Linked DNA regions of Homo sapiens: region 2 is linked to region 1. Evidence: fine-mapped QTL for protein levels in blood plasma. A gene starts in region 1. The other region holds a variant in brackets. All regions are shown on one strand. Distances are between the middles of the regions. Region 1 holds the start of CRISPLD2 (cysteine rich secretory protein LCCL domain containing 2). Region 2 overlaps CRISPLD2 (cysteine rich secretory protein LCCL domain containing 2).

Region 1 (8,000 bases):
AGCCACCGCGCCTGGCCCCATATTTTGTATTTTTATTTAACTTGGCTTGTTTTTTGCGTTCCAAGAAATTTACTTTAAAAAGGTAACTTTCTATCACTCCCACTGGCAGAGAACCTGATCACTGGTGCCGTGAACAGACGGCAGGAGTGAAATTAAACACAGTAAAAACAACAGTTACTTCCTCCCAGCCAGGCACTGACACCAACCAAAGGCTTTGTTGTAGAGGATGCTTGCTCTTTGTTGTAAAAGGAGATCAGGGTGTGGGAGAGGTGATAGGGACAATTCCACCTGTGACTTTCACCTTGCCATAAGCAGAAGGACCGGAAGAACAGAGAATGGAAAGAACAGAGAATGGAAAGAACAGCTCTTGGACTGGGGGGATTTGCTGCTGGATCTGTGCCCGTGCTCAGTCACCTTGGGGACCCCTAGGTATTGGCTCTGCACACTTTGGAGGACACAGTTCATTCTAGAGTGAGCTGTTCTCAAGTTCTCAGTGCCACCGTGTTACTCTCTGTTCATCTTGATGGTGCCCACTAAGTGGTACAGCTCATCACAACACCTGCAGGACAGACCTTTGCTGCCCTGAGCCTGGCTCGTAGACTACAGGCACACCAAACTTCCTGCCATTCTCCAAGAGTCCCAGGCCCTTCTCCACCTGCAGGCCTTTGCACACACACGGTGCCTCTGCCTGGGGCACCCTCGCCAGCTCCCCACCCACCCACTATCATCTTCCCCTGCTCGCAAAACCCTGCCTGTTTCCTCTAGGCGTTATCAGGCTCTTCTCAAGTCAGTCTCAGAAGATGCCAGCTCCATGCCAGCTCCCAGTCCTTAGAGGGGTCCAGTTGAGTCTTTTCCCTATTCAAAAAATATTTGGGGTAGGGTCAGTTCCAGCTCACTTGATTACAAGCAAAATGGGAGCATGACTTTTTTTCCTGGGATGTTGCCATTCTGTGCTCAAAATAAAACACGTTCCAGAAATTGGGATTGAAAATGTGGGATTTCATAATTTATAATTTTTAAAAAATGATGGTCCGGAAATTGCACAATCCTCATCAGGACGTTTTTTTTCCCTCTGACTCTGTGGTTTTTGTCTTAGCTGATGCAGCACTCAAGACAATCAAAGATAAATCTCCCTCGGGCTGGACCATGATGTCCTCGCAGCCTTGCAAGAGGGGTCTTTGTCCAAGAGTACTCGTCATTGTACAGCCTGGGGTAGAAGGCAGGGCTCCCCCAGGGCGATGTCTCAGGATTCCCTGCCTGCTGCTGCTGTGACCCAGGTGGCACGCCAACACTGCCCACAAATGCCAAATGCCAGGGCTTCCCTGCACCCATGGAGAAGGCCAGCAACACATTCTGGAATGACATGACCTGAGTTGATGCTTCAAGAAGGAACTCAAAAAAGAGGCCACAGTCTCCTCAATAAGTTAAACATAAAGTTACCATATGACCCAGCAATTCCCTCCCAGGTAAACACTCAAGAGATATGAAAACATCCGCCCTCAAAAAACCTTGTACACAAATGTTCACAGCAGAAGCCTCTGTAAAAGCCAAAGGTGGAAACAGCCCAGATTTCCTTCAGTGGAAGAATGAATAAACAAAACGTGGTCTATTAATGCAATGGAATATTACTCAGCCATAAAAAAGGAACGAAGGTCTCATACACATTACAACATGGATGAACCTTGAAAACATGATGCTGAGTGAGAGGAGCCAGACACAAAAGGCCACACATTGTGTGGTTCCATTTACATGAAATGTCCAGAATAAGCAAGTTCGTAGAGACAGAAAGGAGATGAGCGGCTGAAGGGAGGAGAATGGCGAATGATGCCTAATGGGCCTGGGGTTTCCTTACGAGATGATGAAACGCTCTGGAATTAGTGGTGGTGGCTGCACAATACTTCCAATGTACTAAACGCCACTGAATTGTACACTTCAAAATGGGTTAAATGGTAAATTTTATGTTTATGTGTATTTTTACCACAATACATCTTTTCAGGAAAAAGAAAAACAGAACATGGCCCATCCTATTAACCACCACCCAGATCTACCTGTCCCTTGCCTGTCCCAGAACTCAGCGTGCTCTATTTAAGACTTTACAACGTGCTTTAGGTCCCTGTCCCTGGAAGGTCTGAGCATCTGTTCCACTCAATGAACTGAAGACGAAGTGAAATATGCCCAGATTGAATTTTCCTTTCCTGACAAGCCGTCAGCCCGTTTGAGTGATCCTGGGTTTGCACATCTGGGACTGATCAAAAACCAGTGCGTTTGCAAAAGAAGAAAAAAGAAAAAGAAAGAAAAAGCCTCCTGAGTCTGGCGCAGGCAGACATGCAGACACCTCCCACACACAGCAAATGACGCTGGTGACAGAGGAAAGAAAAGTTCCAGTTCCCACAGGCCAAAGAGGTCAGTGCCCTGCCTCCAAAAACTTTCTGACCTCCAAAGACGTCAGAGGGTCCTGCCTCCAAAAACTTTCAAATGCAACTTACAAAGGGCCACATACTTAATTTGTGGTCTTTTGAGGGATGAAGTGCAGAGGTTTTAAGAGACCTCGCAGTCTTCTTCCCTAGCTCAGGCCTTCCCAGTCAAACCAACTCTCCTCTCCAGGACAGAGGCAGGACTCAGAACCAGCACTGATTTGGGTCCTGGGACGGGGCTCTCAGTACCTGTCAGCAATGTTGAGCCCAAGCCCAGGGTCAGTTGATCCCCTCCCAGCCTCACCCCAACAGGGACCAGGGACCCAGATCCCTGCCAACGTTAAAAAAACTCCCACATGGCACAGAAAGCCTCAACTAGCAGCAAGCTCTGCTGGGACAGTCATGTGGCTGGTCATTAGATGGGCACCTTCCCCCAGAATCTGGGGCAGGGCCCAGCCTGGACGGCAGCTCTACCCCGCCCTGGCTGTGTCATGTTGGGCACACACCTTAATAATTCTGAGCCTCAACTAACTCCTTGTAAAAAGTGCCCAGCTAATAGAGCAGGCAGTGAGCTCATCCGTGGAAACCCTGGGCATGTCTGGTCTGTACTAAGCATCATGTAAATGTCAGCTGCTTGTATTATTACAAATGGCATTATTACTATTCCTACTCTCACATCTTAAGAAACTCTGAAAAAATCAAAATCACCCTCTTGGTTTCTCCTCCCTGGGTACATTGTCCAGTGGTTTTAACTGGAGCCCCTGTAAGACAAAACATCACCTGTGTGAAGGTCAGGTTCATGGGTGGAGTTGGCAGTGGGCAGGGAAGTGTCTTAAAGAAAGCAGGGTCAAGAGTGCAGATAGGACCCACCTGGGGGTGACAGCATTCCATACCAGCTGGGGGATCTTAGGCAAGCACTTCACCTTGCTGAGCCTCAGTTTCCTCAGCTGTGAAGTGGGCATCAAGAGGCCTACTCCCCGGGGTGTTGCAGCGATGACAATACAGGTAAACTGCGTGGCACAGACCGCGTGCCTGCCGCACAGGCAACACAGTCACACACCCACCCCTTCTCCTGAGTGGGAACAGCCAGATCAGGGGCAGAAGCAGAAAATCAGGTGCATACAACCCAAGGAGCCCTGGGACAGCCGACAGTCACAACTCATGGCCTCAGTCTACTGGAAAGGACCACGCCCCGGTCCTGTTCTGCAGGCTCTCCTCACTGTCAGACATCAGACCCTGGATGGGGAAAGCAGGCTCACCCCATTCTACCAGGGCAAGAGGTCCAAAGGCCCAAAGGGGAAACTCACAACCCCACTCTCGGTTGCAAGGCAAGCTAGGCATTTGCACGGGATGCTTCTCTCAGCCAGGGCAGCAACTCACATTTTGGCTGAGAGACGCCCAATTCAAGTTGGACTGCGATGAGCAGGCATCAGCGAAGTCCTCCCTGGCTTGTCCACCAGCCCAGCCTTAGCAAGGGAGGCTCTGGGTCTGCAGCACATGAGGGACTAGCCCTGGCTCTGTCCACGTGGGACGACCGATCTCCCCCACACTCCAGAGTGAGCCCTCCGCTTCCAGGGTAACTCTCCCCACGCAGGAGTTATGCAGGTGCCCGCTCTGGCTAAAGAAACCCAGAAACGTGTTCCCCCAGACTGCAGAACCCTGACATGGCCCCAAGTCTCTACACATCCATTTGAAGCTCTGGAGACAGACAGAGCTGGGTTCCAGCCCTGGCTCTGCCCGGACAACTTACTTCACCTCTCTGACCCTCAGCATCTTCATCTGAAATGTGGGAAGAAGGCTACCTTGCAAATGAAATCACAGAGGGGCGTGGCCCTCTAAACTGCAGCTGAATGCACATGCCACTAGATCACCCTGGTCCTCCAGACATGAGTAGGACACATTCTAATGCCTGCCATATCCATGCCATCAGCTTTCCAGTTATTGACACCCACTACGAACACAGGAATGCAACAAATGCTAGTGAACTGCACGAGGAAGGCAAGAGAGTAAACAGCCTCTAAGGAGCAGGATTCTGCGCTCAGATCGGCGTTGAATCCTGGGTCCTTGGAGTCCTGGCTGCGAGGTCCTGGACAAATGAGTTGTCCTCGCTGAGCCTCAGTTTCTCCATCTGCAAAAGGGCATGTCGCAAAGCTGTGTTCCGCTATGCAAGCAGAGCACTCGGTGTGGTGCCAGCACACAGTCAGCCCTGCGAGGTGGCATCTGTCCTAGTTATTCCAGCTTCTCGGGGGGGTAACAGTTTGCAAAAGGGAGAAGCATGGAAATCACACTTACCTCCGCAGGGCTCCAATCACCAGCTCGCTGGCGTCTCCCGCGTCCAGCAGACGCGGTAGCAGCGGCGACAGCGCGGGCACAGCAGGCACAGCGGGCACAGCGAGCAGACAGCTCAATAGGAGCAGCCGGAGACGCCCTGGGATGCGAGTGGGTGCCGGGGCTCAGCGTACCGCCTCTTGTAGGCTCCCCGGAGCCCGGAGGCCACGCCCCCAGATCGCTGGCGGCGCTGGTAGGACCGAGCATCACCGGCCCCGCCCCCGGCCCCGCCCCGCAGGCTCAGCGGGCTGAAGGAGGCGGGGGGCAGCTGAGGCGCGGGCGCCGGGTGGGCGAGGAAGGCGGGGCCGCTGGCCTCCAGGGCCGGCTAGGGACAAGGAGACGCTCAGCTCCCTCGCCACTGGCCACACAAGCATAGTTTTCATTGAGCGCTTACTATGCGCCTGGCGCGGTGCCAAGCGCTTCCCACAAGGGGCTTGCAAATTTACCAAACCCCAGCTCTCTGCAGCTCAACTGGAAAATAGGAATAAGGAGGCGACCTCCCAGGATTTTAGCAAATGAAATCCGCAAGGGCTGGGCGCTGTGAACTGTGGCGCGGTGCAGAGTACACAGTTACTGAGGTGACTCCCACCCTCTACACGTGCTCAGAAAACTTAGGCCCCCTCTTCCCAATTTGCAGACGAAGAAAGGGAGACTTGTTTCCGGATGGGGCCGCTAGCGCGGGGATCCAGGCTCCGCACTTTACCTTCAACGACCCTAGGACGCGTTCCCAGGAATCCAGGGAGGTGGAAATCACCTCATTTCACAGATCCAGTAGCTGAGGCTTGGAGAAGAGCGTGCCCCAAGTCCCGTAGCTAGGAGCAGTGCAGCATGTTCATATCTCTTTTGCCCGGAGGCATTTAGCATTTTTAACCTGTGCAGGTACATACGGAAATCAATTTAGAGCCAGACGAAATCACCTTTGAAACAGGTAAATCCACGTTCCTTAAGAGCTAAGGGACTGCCCCGTGCTCCCGCCTCAGTCACAAAATGTGGACGGGTATGCAGGCACTGCGCGGTAAGGTGCTGGGGCCCAAGGGCAGGAGGGGGCCTGTCCGCACTGCTCATCTCCGCACCAAGACACCGGAATTAGCTCCTCCAGCATTAACTCATTCCCCAAATACCCATCGAGTCGCTCTGTGCCGGGCCCTGTGCTATACAGCAGGCACAAACAAGACACCTCCGGGATCTCAGAGTCTGGGGCCCCCACGAGCTAGGGCACGTGGGAGAAACAAGGATGGGGAATGGGTGGAACAAGGACTATGGAAGGCTGCCTGCGTGACGTGGACTCAAACAGGGAAGGCTTGCCTAAGATTTTGGTGCGGCTCAAATGCAGATACAGAATAATGCAGACTGGCCGGGCGCGGTGGCTCACACCTGTAATCCCAGCACTGTGGGAGTTTGAGGCGGGCGGATCACCTGAGATCAGGAGTTCGAAACCATCCCGGCCAACATGGTGACACTGTCTCTACTAAAAATACAAAAATTAGCCGGGCATGGTGGTGCATGCCTGTAGTCCCAGCTACTTGGGAGGCTGAGGCAGGAGAATCGCTCGAACCTGAGAGGCAGAGGTTGCAGTGAGCTGAGATGGCGCCATTGCACTCTAGCCTAGGAGACAAGAACAAAACTCCATCTCAAAAAGATAATAATAATGCAGATGTTTTCTGTTATCTTTTTTTCCTCTTTTTGTTTTACTTTTCTCAGTCTTTGAAGCATCATTCTTCAGAGGCACTCAACTGGCATGCAGTCATCCAATAATTAAGCACCTACTATGTGCTGGGCTCTGTTTCAAGCACTGGAGGGCTCAGTAGTGAATAAGACTGTTCCAGAACAACAGTCCTTGGATTGACAAAAGACAAATCCAAGGGGAGAAGAGATCTGTGTTAGCAGATGCCTTTGGAGGCCTGGCACGATGGCTCAGGCCTGTAATCCCAGCACTTTGGGAGGCCCAGGCAGGTGGCTTGAGTTCAGGACCAGCCTGCAACATGATGAAATCCAGTTGCTACAAAAAGTAGCCAGCATGGTGGCATATGCCTGTGGTTCCAGCCACTCAGGAGGCTGAGGTGGGAGGATTGCCTGAGCCTGGGAGGTGGAGGTTGCAGTGAGCTGAAATCGAGCCACTGCATCCCAGCCTGGGTGACAGAGCAAGACCCTATTTCAAAACAAAACCAACCAACCAAACAAACAAACAACAACAAAACAGATGCCTCTGAGTACCTGACCCCAAAGCATTATACTGCCAAATCCTGCCACCCCCAACAACCCTCCAGGCTGGTCCTGTTATTAGCCTCATTTTTTCAATGATGGAACTGAGCACAGAGAGTGTAAGTCACTTCCCTGAGGCCACACAGCCTCTGAATAGAAGAGCCAGGATTTGAATTCACACTCTCACCCACGTGGCTGCCATTGCCTGTGACCATGAAACCTTGGGTGCAGGGGAATGGAATGAACTGGGTCCCTACTCCATCCCCACTCCAGCAAAGAGGAAGGAAAGCTACACGGAATCAGCCTCTACATAGGCCCAGCAGGTGGAACGGGGGTTGGCAGTTGTCAATAGTGAAATGTTTGCCACTTTGCTAATCCAACCCTCATCTCCTTACAGATCCTTTGTATGGCAACCCTGTAGGCTCCTCACCGGCCCAAGTTGGCTTTGGGGAGACCCAGCCCAGCCCAGACGCTCCAAGGACCCCATTGGCAGAGCTGCAACCAGAGACCACTGCTCTGCAAGCCACGATTGCTGTCCGGGCAGTCTCACCCACGGGGCAGACTGAATCCTTAGCTTGCTGGTTTGTGTCATCATCCGGCATCAGGCTCAGTTCAAATCCCAGCTCCTCCACTTCCAAGTTGTTGGCCTTGAGCAAGTCACTTAATGTCGCTGCGTTCCATGCCCCATCTGTGAAATGAATGTGGTAATAATGGCATCTCTGTCTCTCTCTGTGGGCACAAATGGTTAATAGATGGGAAGTAATACGTGGCCTGACACACAGAAAGTGTTAGTTAATACCGTTATTATTAGAGCCAGTAAAGCAAAGAGAGAGAGAGGAGTTTAGTGGTGATCAACTTTTCCATCATGTTGCAATCTCAGAATCTAATTTCCAAAAAATAACATTTGAATTTGAAAAAAAAAAAATGGTGTTTCATGGGCAAGGGGGACCCCTGGGAAGTCCCAGATGGGAGAGCACCAACTTGTACCAAGGAAAGGGGCAAGATGGCCAGTCCCGTCCCAAGTGCCCCCTGGGAAGGGACTGGTCACTGATACCC
Region 2 (9,375 bases), 29 kb before region 1:
GCCACTGACAGGTCAGGGGGGAAGGTTGTGTGCTGTGGGAAGCGGGAAAGATGGCTATCCCAGGCCTCTCCCGTGCACAGAGAGTCTAGAGAGCTCCAGAATCCCAGCGATTCTGCAGAAGGGAGCTACAAGATGCCCTTCCACACAGTACCTTTGCCCTGGCTGGCTGTCAGCCCCGTGGCCCCCCTTCCACCAACACAGCTCTGAACACTGTTAGGGCCCCTAGATCACAACACCTTAGCGCTGAAAAGCTGCCAGGACCCCCTTTTAAGCCATTTCTCAAATGTGTAAAGCCAGCCTGTCCCAGAGACGGCTTGCGTTTCCCAGTTTTTACCACACACCATCCCTGGTCTGTGCCTTCACTGCACTCCTCACCCCATCTCCCCAACACCCCAGGAGGGAAGAGCTGGAATTCAATATTTTTGCAGAGGAGGAAACTGTGGCACAGTGAGGTTAAGTGACTTGCCCCAGGTCACAGGACAAGCAAGTGGCGGGGCTGGGATTTGAACACAGGCTGTCCGGCTCAGAGCCTTAGGCACACTCTACTCTAGGGGCTGGATCAAAGGTCCCTCTTGGGTCACAGTTGCCCTCTGCCTCCCTCCGGAGTTCCCAGGGGCAGGAAAACTGGAGGCCGCACCATAGGCTTTCTCCAGGGGCCAGGTAGAGGTGGTGAGCGGAATCCCCAGGCCCTTCCTGCGGCTCCTGGGCTGTGAAGAGCAGGCTCCCCGGCTTGGGCCCCAGGCTGCCAGCATGTGCCCTCGGCCAGCCTCCTCCAGCCCCAGCCTCGGTCTCCCTTTCTGTAAAATGGGATCACGGCAGCAGGGCTGCTGTGAGACTGAGGGAGTGACCGTGGGGAAGCCCTTGGACCGGCACCTGACTCACGGGGAAGGCTGTGCTCTGAGCGTTGGGGAAATCCACAGGCTTGTGCGGGGAACGCTCTGATGCTTTCCAGGGAAGATGGGGAGGGGCCCTGCCAGTGCTGGCCAAAGACAAACGGCAGGAAACACGCTCTGGGTCTGATAGGCATCCGTCCTTACAAGAGTGGCCTAGAACTTCCCGCGGCCCCAGAAGCACCCTGGCCTCACCGAGGGGCCTGTGGGCAGGGGAGGGACAGTGGGCCGTGCAGTGTGGGGAGGACAGGGCTGGCCACTGTCTGACTGGGCACTGTTATGACGTGCACACAGCCTCTTCCACCCTCTCACATTCCGGAGGCAGAATGATCGCGTCCGTGCCATGCCACAAGACATCCCTGCTCAGAAATCGTCTGTTCAGATCCCCGGGGGTCTTCGGGATGACTCCCCCAAAAAGAACATCACCAAGGGACCGAGAGGTCCCAGAGCCCATCCTGTCTCTGGGTGAAGCCCAGTAGGTTTCTCAGATGATCGTGGCCCTGTCGTGGGTACGTCCCACTGCCCCTGCCAAGTTTCCCCTTGTGTCTACGGTTCTATATTTCCTCAGACAAACCACACCACTGACGCTCCCAGCTCAACCCTAACACTCAGGGTTGGCATTGGTGGAAGGCTGGCTGGGCACCAGGTCCTGCAGACAAATAATCTCCTTAATTTTTGAGACAGGGTCTTGCTCTGTCACCCAGGCTGGAGTGCAGTGGTGTGACCACAGCTCACTGCAGCCTCAACCTCCTGGGCTCAAGCAATCCTCCCACCTCAGCCTCACAAGTAACTGGGAATACAGGCATGCACCACCACACCCAGCTAACTTTTTGTATTTTTCGTGGAGATGGGGTTTTGCCAGTTGCCAAGGCTGGTCTTGAACTCCTGGACTCAAGCGATTCTCCTGCCTCGGCCAAAGGAGGCTGGGATTACAGGCATGAGCCACCGCACTGGCCAGTCTCCTTAATTTTTGAATAGCACCGTGAAGTACCTTCCCTCACACACAAGGCCCTCTGTGTACACACCCACCCCACCCCTTGTCGGGTTGGGAATCCCCCTCAAGGGATCTGACCCCCCCCACACCCAAACTCACCCTCCCAGCCACCCTCCTCACCCTGGTGCCTGGGACAGTGTCCTGCATAGCCCAGGGGCTCAAGCCCTCTCTCTAAGACAGAGGCCATGGACAGCACGCAGTAATATGCAGCAGACAAAAGGAAAGAACCGGTGATCACGCAACACCACGGGGAGACCTCACCAATGTGATGTTGAGCAAAACACCATTTGGGGGTACAGGGAGTGTGCTGTGTGGCCCCCTTCATATGAGGTCCCACACCAGACACCACAGACCGATGGGAAAGATGCTAGAATGGTGGGCACTTTGTAGGGCACGAGAGAGCCTCTGGGGCATGGGAGACACTGTCCATCTCCATCTGGATGGTAGTTACACGGGTAGAGGGCTATTGCCGTGGACTTTCATTATGTGTCTCCCCAAATCCCAGTGTTGAAACCCTCACCCACAATGTGACTGTACTTGGAGACAGGGCCTTGATGAAACTAATTAAGGTTAAACGACGTCAACAGGTGAAGTCCTGACCCAATAGGATTGATGTCCTCATCTCTCACCACCATGTAAGATAGTGGCCGTTGGTGAGCCAGGAAGAGAGCTCCCACTGGAGCCCGATGCTGCCACCCCTTGATCTGCCACACCTTGATCTGCCACCCCTTG[G/C]TCCAGGGGACTTCTAGCCTCCAGAATGGTGAGACATAAAAGTCTGATGTGTAAGCTGCCCAGGCTGTGGCCTCTGTTGTTGCAGCCCCAACAGACTAATGCATGTGAGACTGTGTCGCACTGTATACTTCAGATGAGTATATTTTACCATATGGAGGTTATTCCTTCTTTTAAGGAAGCAGGGGGCAGCTACAGAAGGAAATAATTTCATTTCTGATAGGACCTTCTAGTGTCTATTTTTTATAGAGTCAAGTCAAATGATTCCTCATTCACCACCTGCCACTGGGCCAGGAATTCCACCACCTTGGACCAGTCTGCTGCTCTTGCATGGTGCCTGCGTCCCTCCCAGGCAATGACACACCCGCTGCGCTCATCCATGTGGGCTGCTGAGCCGCGCCACGCCACCGCAGGCACACCAGATGGTTTTGAGAGGGCTTCTATTTTTCCTCCCAACCTCAGCGATTCCCCCTTCATCCCACCTTTTCATAACTACTCCTGACCCAAAACAAATAAATGAGGTCATTCCCATTTCATTCAGTCACTGAGCAAACATGCCCCGGGGCCCACTCTACACAGGGCACGGGGCAAGAACGGCGGTGGCCAGCGGCCAGCATGCAAACCTCAGGCCATGAACTGGGGGAGTGACTCTCCAAGAATCAGCACATATTTGTCCCATGAGCAAATGAGTCAAGGGCTGGACACCACACTGATGAGCTGAGCATGCTATAGGCGGAGGAGGCACCATGATCAGGAGGCCGCATGTGGACCCTCTTTGGAGGGAAACAGAGAAGCTAGGCTTTGTGTGAACATGTGTTTTCTAGGGTGCTGTCTACTGCATGTTTTCAGAGAAAAATAATCATACTGCCAGGGCAGACCATGCTGGTTGCCCAGCCAGCAGCTATTCCCACTTCTGACTTTGTTCAGTTGGTCCCAGAGGACGTCTTGCAAAGCCAGTTGGGGCAATCTTTTTCCCCCTCATCTATGATTGGTCTAATTCTGGCAAAGAACATAAGGAGAAAGTATGCCAGTGTGCAAAAGACCTAAGGAGAGAGCCCTTTGACCATCCTTCCTTGTGCTTGGGGAGATGTGATGTTGGTGCTGTGCAGCCATCTTGGGACCATGAGGAGAGAATGGTACGGCAGGAAGACGGAAAGAACCCGAGTCCTTGTTGACACTGCTTAGCTATTACGCTAACCCAGATGCACTAAACTCTAGATTCTTTGTTATGTGAGATATTAAAGACTTCGCTGCTCAAGCCAGTTTTCACTGGGTGCTCCCTGGCAAGCAAACACATCCCAACCCCCACCCCATACAACGGCATCAACTTGTCTTACTTTGGAGAATAATTGCAGACAAAGTAGACCGCGTTCTCCCAAACTTCTCCCCAGACAGTCATCTTCCGGCAGGTGTTCACAGCACAACCGATCTTGTTGGTGGTGGCCCAAACTATCTGAAAAGATGACATTTGTGTGTCACAGCTCGAGGGATAAGGCACAAAAGGGTGATATCATTTGGCCTGGATGTATAAGGTGCTGGCACTAAAGAGGTACGAGGTGAAGGGTTGGGGAAGCAGATATTAGTCCCTAACCCATTGAAGATACATACATTTTCTTAAAAAGCAAAGCAAGTGGGCCGGTGCGGTGGCTCACGCCTGTCATCTCAGCATTTTGGGAGGCTGAGGTGGGCGGATCATGAGGTCAGGAGTTTGAGACCAGCCTGACCAACATGGTGAAACCCCATCTCTACTAAAAAAACAAAAATTAGCCGGGCGTGGTGGCAGGCACCTATAGTCCCAGCTACTCAGGAGGCTGAGGCAGGCGAATCGCTTGAACCCAGGAGGCAGAGGTTGCGGTGAGCCAAGATCGTGCCACTGCACTCCAGCCTGGGCGACAGAGGGAGACTCCGTTTCAAAAAAAAAAAAAGCAAGCAAACAAACAGACTCCCACACAATGAAAATGCCCCACAATGTCAAATTGCCATAGAAGTTTTCTCGGTTGAGTGCAGTAGCTCACAACTGTAATCCCAACACTTTGGGAAGCTGAGCGGGGAGGATTGCATGAGCCCAGGAGTTTGCGACTAGCCTGGACAACATAGCCAGACCCATCTCTAAAAAAAAAAAAAAAAATACAAAAATTAGCCAGGCCTCGTAGTGCACAACTGTAGTCCCAGGTACTCAGGAGGCTGAGGTGGGAGGATTGCTTGAGCCCAGGAGTTTGGGGCTGCACTAAGCTAACTAAGATCATGCCACTGCACTCCAGCCCAGGTAGCAGGGAGACACTGCCTCAAAGAAAAAAAAGAGTTTGTAGTGCTCACTCAGTTTCTGACCTTGCTGGTAACAAACAGCTTCTTCTCCCAGCTGTACTCTGTATAGAACTGAATTTTTAAAAATGAAGGCAACAACAGCGCAGAGGCTTTACAGATTTGACAATCCCCCAGGGGCAGGGGGTGAATGACTGGGATTGGGGGGCAGGGCTGAGGTCGTGGCAAGTCCCCGAGTTACCTGTGTGTAGTGCGTGCACATGGGCCCCGAGCACCTCTCTGGACACCAGGGGTTGCACTCGCTCGGGTAGGGGTAGGTGTAGTCCTTCACCTCGTCATACCAGGACTGCACATGGAACCCCGGAGAGCGATACCTGCAGGGCAGAAACCGCTCACTCAGTCCCAGCCCCTCCCCTCACCCACCAGTGGAGACAGCAGCAGCCACGGGCAGGTAGGAGGGAGGGAGGCCGAGGAGGGTGAATAGCGGCCAATTCCAGGAGCAGCCACGGGCAGCCGGGAGGGAGGGAGGCCGAGGAGGCGGAATAGCCCCCAATTCCAGGAGCAGCCACGGGCAGCGAGGAGGGAGGGAGGCCGAGGTGGGGGAATAACCCTCAATTCCAGCAGCACCTGGTACAGGTGCTTAATACCATTATCCTTGAGGAGCTCACCTGGGGTCTCTAGTAGGCTCCTCAGGTGGCTCATACACCACCTGCACGTGCAGGAATCTCTTCACCTGGCTCTTAATGAGTCCTTTCTTTTTTTTTTTTTTTTTTGAGACGGAGTCTCGCTCTGTCGCCCAGGCTGGAGTGCAGTGGCGGGATCTCGGCTCACTGCAAGCTCCGCCTCCCGGGTTCACGCCATTCTCCTGCCTCAGCCTCCCAAGTAATGAGTCCTTTCTTATGTCAATTAGGTGTTTATTTTCAGGTACGTTGGAGAAAAACTATCCAGCCCATGAAGCCCGTATTTCACAGATATTGTTGTCTAAGACAAAACCTGATGAAGACGTGAGTGCACTTAAGGCCGAACATGGTGGCTCATGCCTGTCATCCCAGCACTTTGGGAGGCTGAGGCGGTAGGATCACCTGAGGTCAGGAGTTGGAGACCAGCCTGGCCGACATGGCGAAACCCCGTCTCTACTAAAAATACAAAAATTAGCCGGGCGAGGTGGTGCATGCCTGTAATCTGCAGCCACCAGCTGCACCTGTCCCTGGACATCCTCCGTGGGGTCATCGCTTCATGCCCACCACCCCCTTGCTTCAGCCTTGGCTGCCAAGGTTGGCACCATTTTTTTTTTTTTTAATAACTAGGGAGAAAACCAAACTGGAGGCAAGTCCACAGTCACACTGTCACCAGCAAGTATAAACAAAGTGGTTTCGATGAAGAGAAAATGCTCACGGGGGAAATGACCATTTTTAAGGGCCATGTGGTCGTCGAGGCAGTTAGAGGTCTTGTAACAATTACTGTCTGGAAGCGGAGCGCACGGCAGCGGGCAGCGGCATTTGCAGAAAGGCGTGCACACAGTGAGGAGGCAGGAGCAGAGGGCTGCTGGCCACTCATCCGCTTCCCTGCGGCTCAAGGTCACGCAGACTCAAGGCTGGCACTGGCATGGCTGTGGGGAAAGGAACCCGCGGCTGCCCCGGGGGGCCATGCAGAGTCAGGGGCTCTTTTGCAAAGCAAGTTAGCAAAATTCCTTAAGAAAGGGGGAAGTCTGTGTGCCCTTTGGCCCAGCAATCCTACTTCTCAGGAGTAATCCTAATGAAATCATTCAAGTGAGACAAAGACAAAAACAAAAAACAAAAATGAATCTGCAAGAGCCAACGGGTCAACTTTGGTCTGTCCACAGAGGGATCATTAGGGCATTTGCAGGGCGACATTCATGACAACTGTATCACTGAAAATTTCCTGATATTGTATGAAAAGGAAAAAGAAAAAGATTTCAAAGTGATCCAGGCTACAGTCTCAATGCTGTAAAACTACGTCGGCGCCCAGCCAGGTGCTGCAAAGGAGCTCAGAAAAATGAAAAGAGCCGAACCAGGCTAGTGGAATTCCAGATCTCCCTGCTTTAGACACTTCACTTTCATGTTATTGTAAGATTTTTTTTTTTTTTTGAGACGAATTCTTGCACTGTCACCCAGGCTGGAGTACAATGGTGCAATCCTGGCTCACTGCAGCCTCCGCCTCCAGGGTTCAAGCGATTCTCCTGCCTCAGCCTCCCAAGTAGCTGGGATGACAGGCGCCTGCCACCACGCCTGGCTAATTTTTTGTATTTTTAGTAGAGACGGGGTTTCACTATGTTGGCCAGGATAGTCTTGAACTCCTGACCTTGTATTCTGCCCACCTTGGCCTCCCAAAGTGCTGGGATTACAGGCATGAGCCACCTTGCCCAGCCTGTAAGATAGTTTTTATAAAAAGCTAACTTCACCAAAGAAAAAACCATGGTGTGGATTTGCCTCTGTGAAGTCACCGCGGTCGATCCACCATGACACCTGCCCAGGTTTGTCCTGAAAACCCACGGATGCAGAGGAAGGTGCGGCTGCCCGTGGCCCAGTGAAACCCAAGCTAGGAAATCCCTCTGTGGGAAGTGAAAGCAAACGCTCACCTACATTTTAAGAGGCTGTCTAAAGCCCATTCCAACTTTTCAATAATTAGGGCAAAATGGATGTCAATCCAGGTCCTGGATGGGTCTGAGGACGTGAATTCTGGCCTTGGGCATGGCACGGTCACAGGTTGGTCGTTAAGTCTTATGTGGTCTTAGTTGTTATCCTGGGCGTGGTCAAAAGACATTTTTCCACTTTCTCCAATGAAACCAGCCGTCAGCCCCCAGGAGGGGACTTCTGGGTTCTTTGGGAGCACGGATACATGGTCCAGCTTACTCTGGGGAAGGCCCGTCGGCTGCATTTAACAGACAACCGTCAATGCCTCCTATGGGAGAGGGGACAAATCGCTCCCAGACAGGGAAGGAGAGGGGACAGAACACTGCCAGACAGGGAAGCCTCGGGGGTCTGGAGAAGTTAGTGAGCTTCCCGACGGCTGGATGACGCGGGGAAGGCAATGGGCATCTTCCCAACAGGGTGGAACCTGGCTCAGCCTTAAACAGTGAGCAGAACCAGACAGAAATGACCCACCATGAACAGAGCAGTTCACCCCACAGGAACGGGGACTCAAGAACCCTGCACAGGAGATGGAATGGAAACCCCAAACTACAGGCCAGGCGCGGTGGCTCATGCCTGTAATCCCCGCACTTGAGGAGGCCAACGTGGGTGGATCACTTGAGGCCAGGAGTTCGAGACCACCCTGGCCAATATGGTGAAACCCTGTCTCTACCAAAAAATACAAAAATTAGCCAGGCGTGGTGGCACATGCCTATAGTCCCAGCTACTTGGGAGGCTGAGGCTCGAGAATCACTTGAACCCAGGAGACAGAGGTTGCAGTGAGCCGAGATTGCGCCACTGCACTCCATCCTGGATGACAGAATAAGACCCTGTCAAGAAAAGAAGGAAGGGAAGGGGAGGGGAGGGGAGGGGAAGGGAGGGAAGGGAAGGAGGGAGGAAGGGAGGGAGGAAGGAAGGAAGGAAAGGAAGAAGGAAAGGAAGAAGGAAAGGAAGAAGGAAAACCCAAACTACAAACTTTAATCAATCATCAGTGTCTGGGGTCAGCCAACCAAGCTTGAATACATTTTGTCAGTCACTCAGGAGTGTTCCTGGATGCCAAGCCTCAGTTTCCCAGAATATCGATGGGACGGGTGGTCTCTCTCACTCTCTTTGCAGGCTAAACTTGATAAGGGGCACAAGTGCTGAGCCCGGCACACGGCAGTGGGGTCCTGCGGCAGCCGGAGAGGAACTTGTGGCTCTTACCTGCCCCAGTGAGCGCCCAGGTTCTGCCCGATGGACACCAGCAGACTGGTGGGCCCGTGCTCCCAGATGCACTGACTGGCCCACGCTGCAGCAGACTTCTCCAGTTCGTCATCCCAGGTCTGCAGGAGAAGGAGAAACGGGCACCAGGAGGTGAGGGTGAGGGAGGGGCATAAGAACCATAAATACAGCAACGCCCCAGCCTGGGCTCCTGTGGAGCCTACAGCCAATGCTCTGCTGCTGTATTGCTGGGTTCCTAAATCAGCCAGGGGGGCGTGGCAGGCCAGACGTGCCGGCTCCAAGCCTATCCTCAGGCCTCCTGCTGGGCCTCTAACTTGCCAGAGGTCCTGGGCAGGTGCCTTCTCTCTGGGCCTCAGTGTCTGTGAAACAGGAGTGGCCATGCTGAGTGACCTCTGAGGGTAACACGGCACGCTGTGTGGAAGACAAGGGAAGGTCAGCAGCCATCTCTAGGGACGGTCTTGGCCTGGAAGCCTGTCCCGATGACCCCAGTCTCCTCTCCTTATGCATGTTCCAGGCACACCAGGCTTCCTCTCCTTACTACGCATGATCCAGGCACACCAGGCTTCCTCTCCTTACTACGCATGTTCCAGGCACACCAGGCCTCGGGCTTTACCCCAACCTTTTCATT

Evidence for each region. A credible set is the group of variants that fine-mapping cannot tell apart. PIP is the posterior inclusion probability: the model's chance that the variant is causal. Sun 2018 read protein levels with aptamers (SomaScan).
Region 2: its variant is the best candidate, but not a certain one, in a credible set for the plasma level of the CRISPLD2 protein (Sun 2018, PIP 0.55).

Annotation. Positions count from the first base shown.
Region 1 is chr16:84,816,840-84,824,839 of GRCh38, reverse strand. It overlaps CRISPLD2 (cysteine rich secretory protein LCCL domain containing 2), which reads right to left and starts at 4,855. Exons shown (of 15, transcript NM_031476.4): 1 at 4,707-4,855. RefSeq lists a silencer at 4,893-5,082.
Region 2 is chr16:84,845,259-84,854,633 of GRCh38, reverse strand. CRISPLD2 (cysteine rich secretory protein LCCL domain containing 2) reads right to left here. Exons shown (of 15, transcript NM_031476.4): 3 at 8,730-8,848; 4 at 5,117-5,249; 5 at 3,951-4,066. Among named protein-coding and RNA genes, the nearest start is that of CRISPLD2, 30 kb to the right of the region's middle. RefSeq lists enhancers at 3,122-3,623, 9,034-9,375 and a silencer at 8,015-8,251. The variant G/C (reference allele first, on the strand shown) is at 2,617.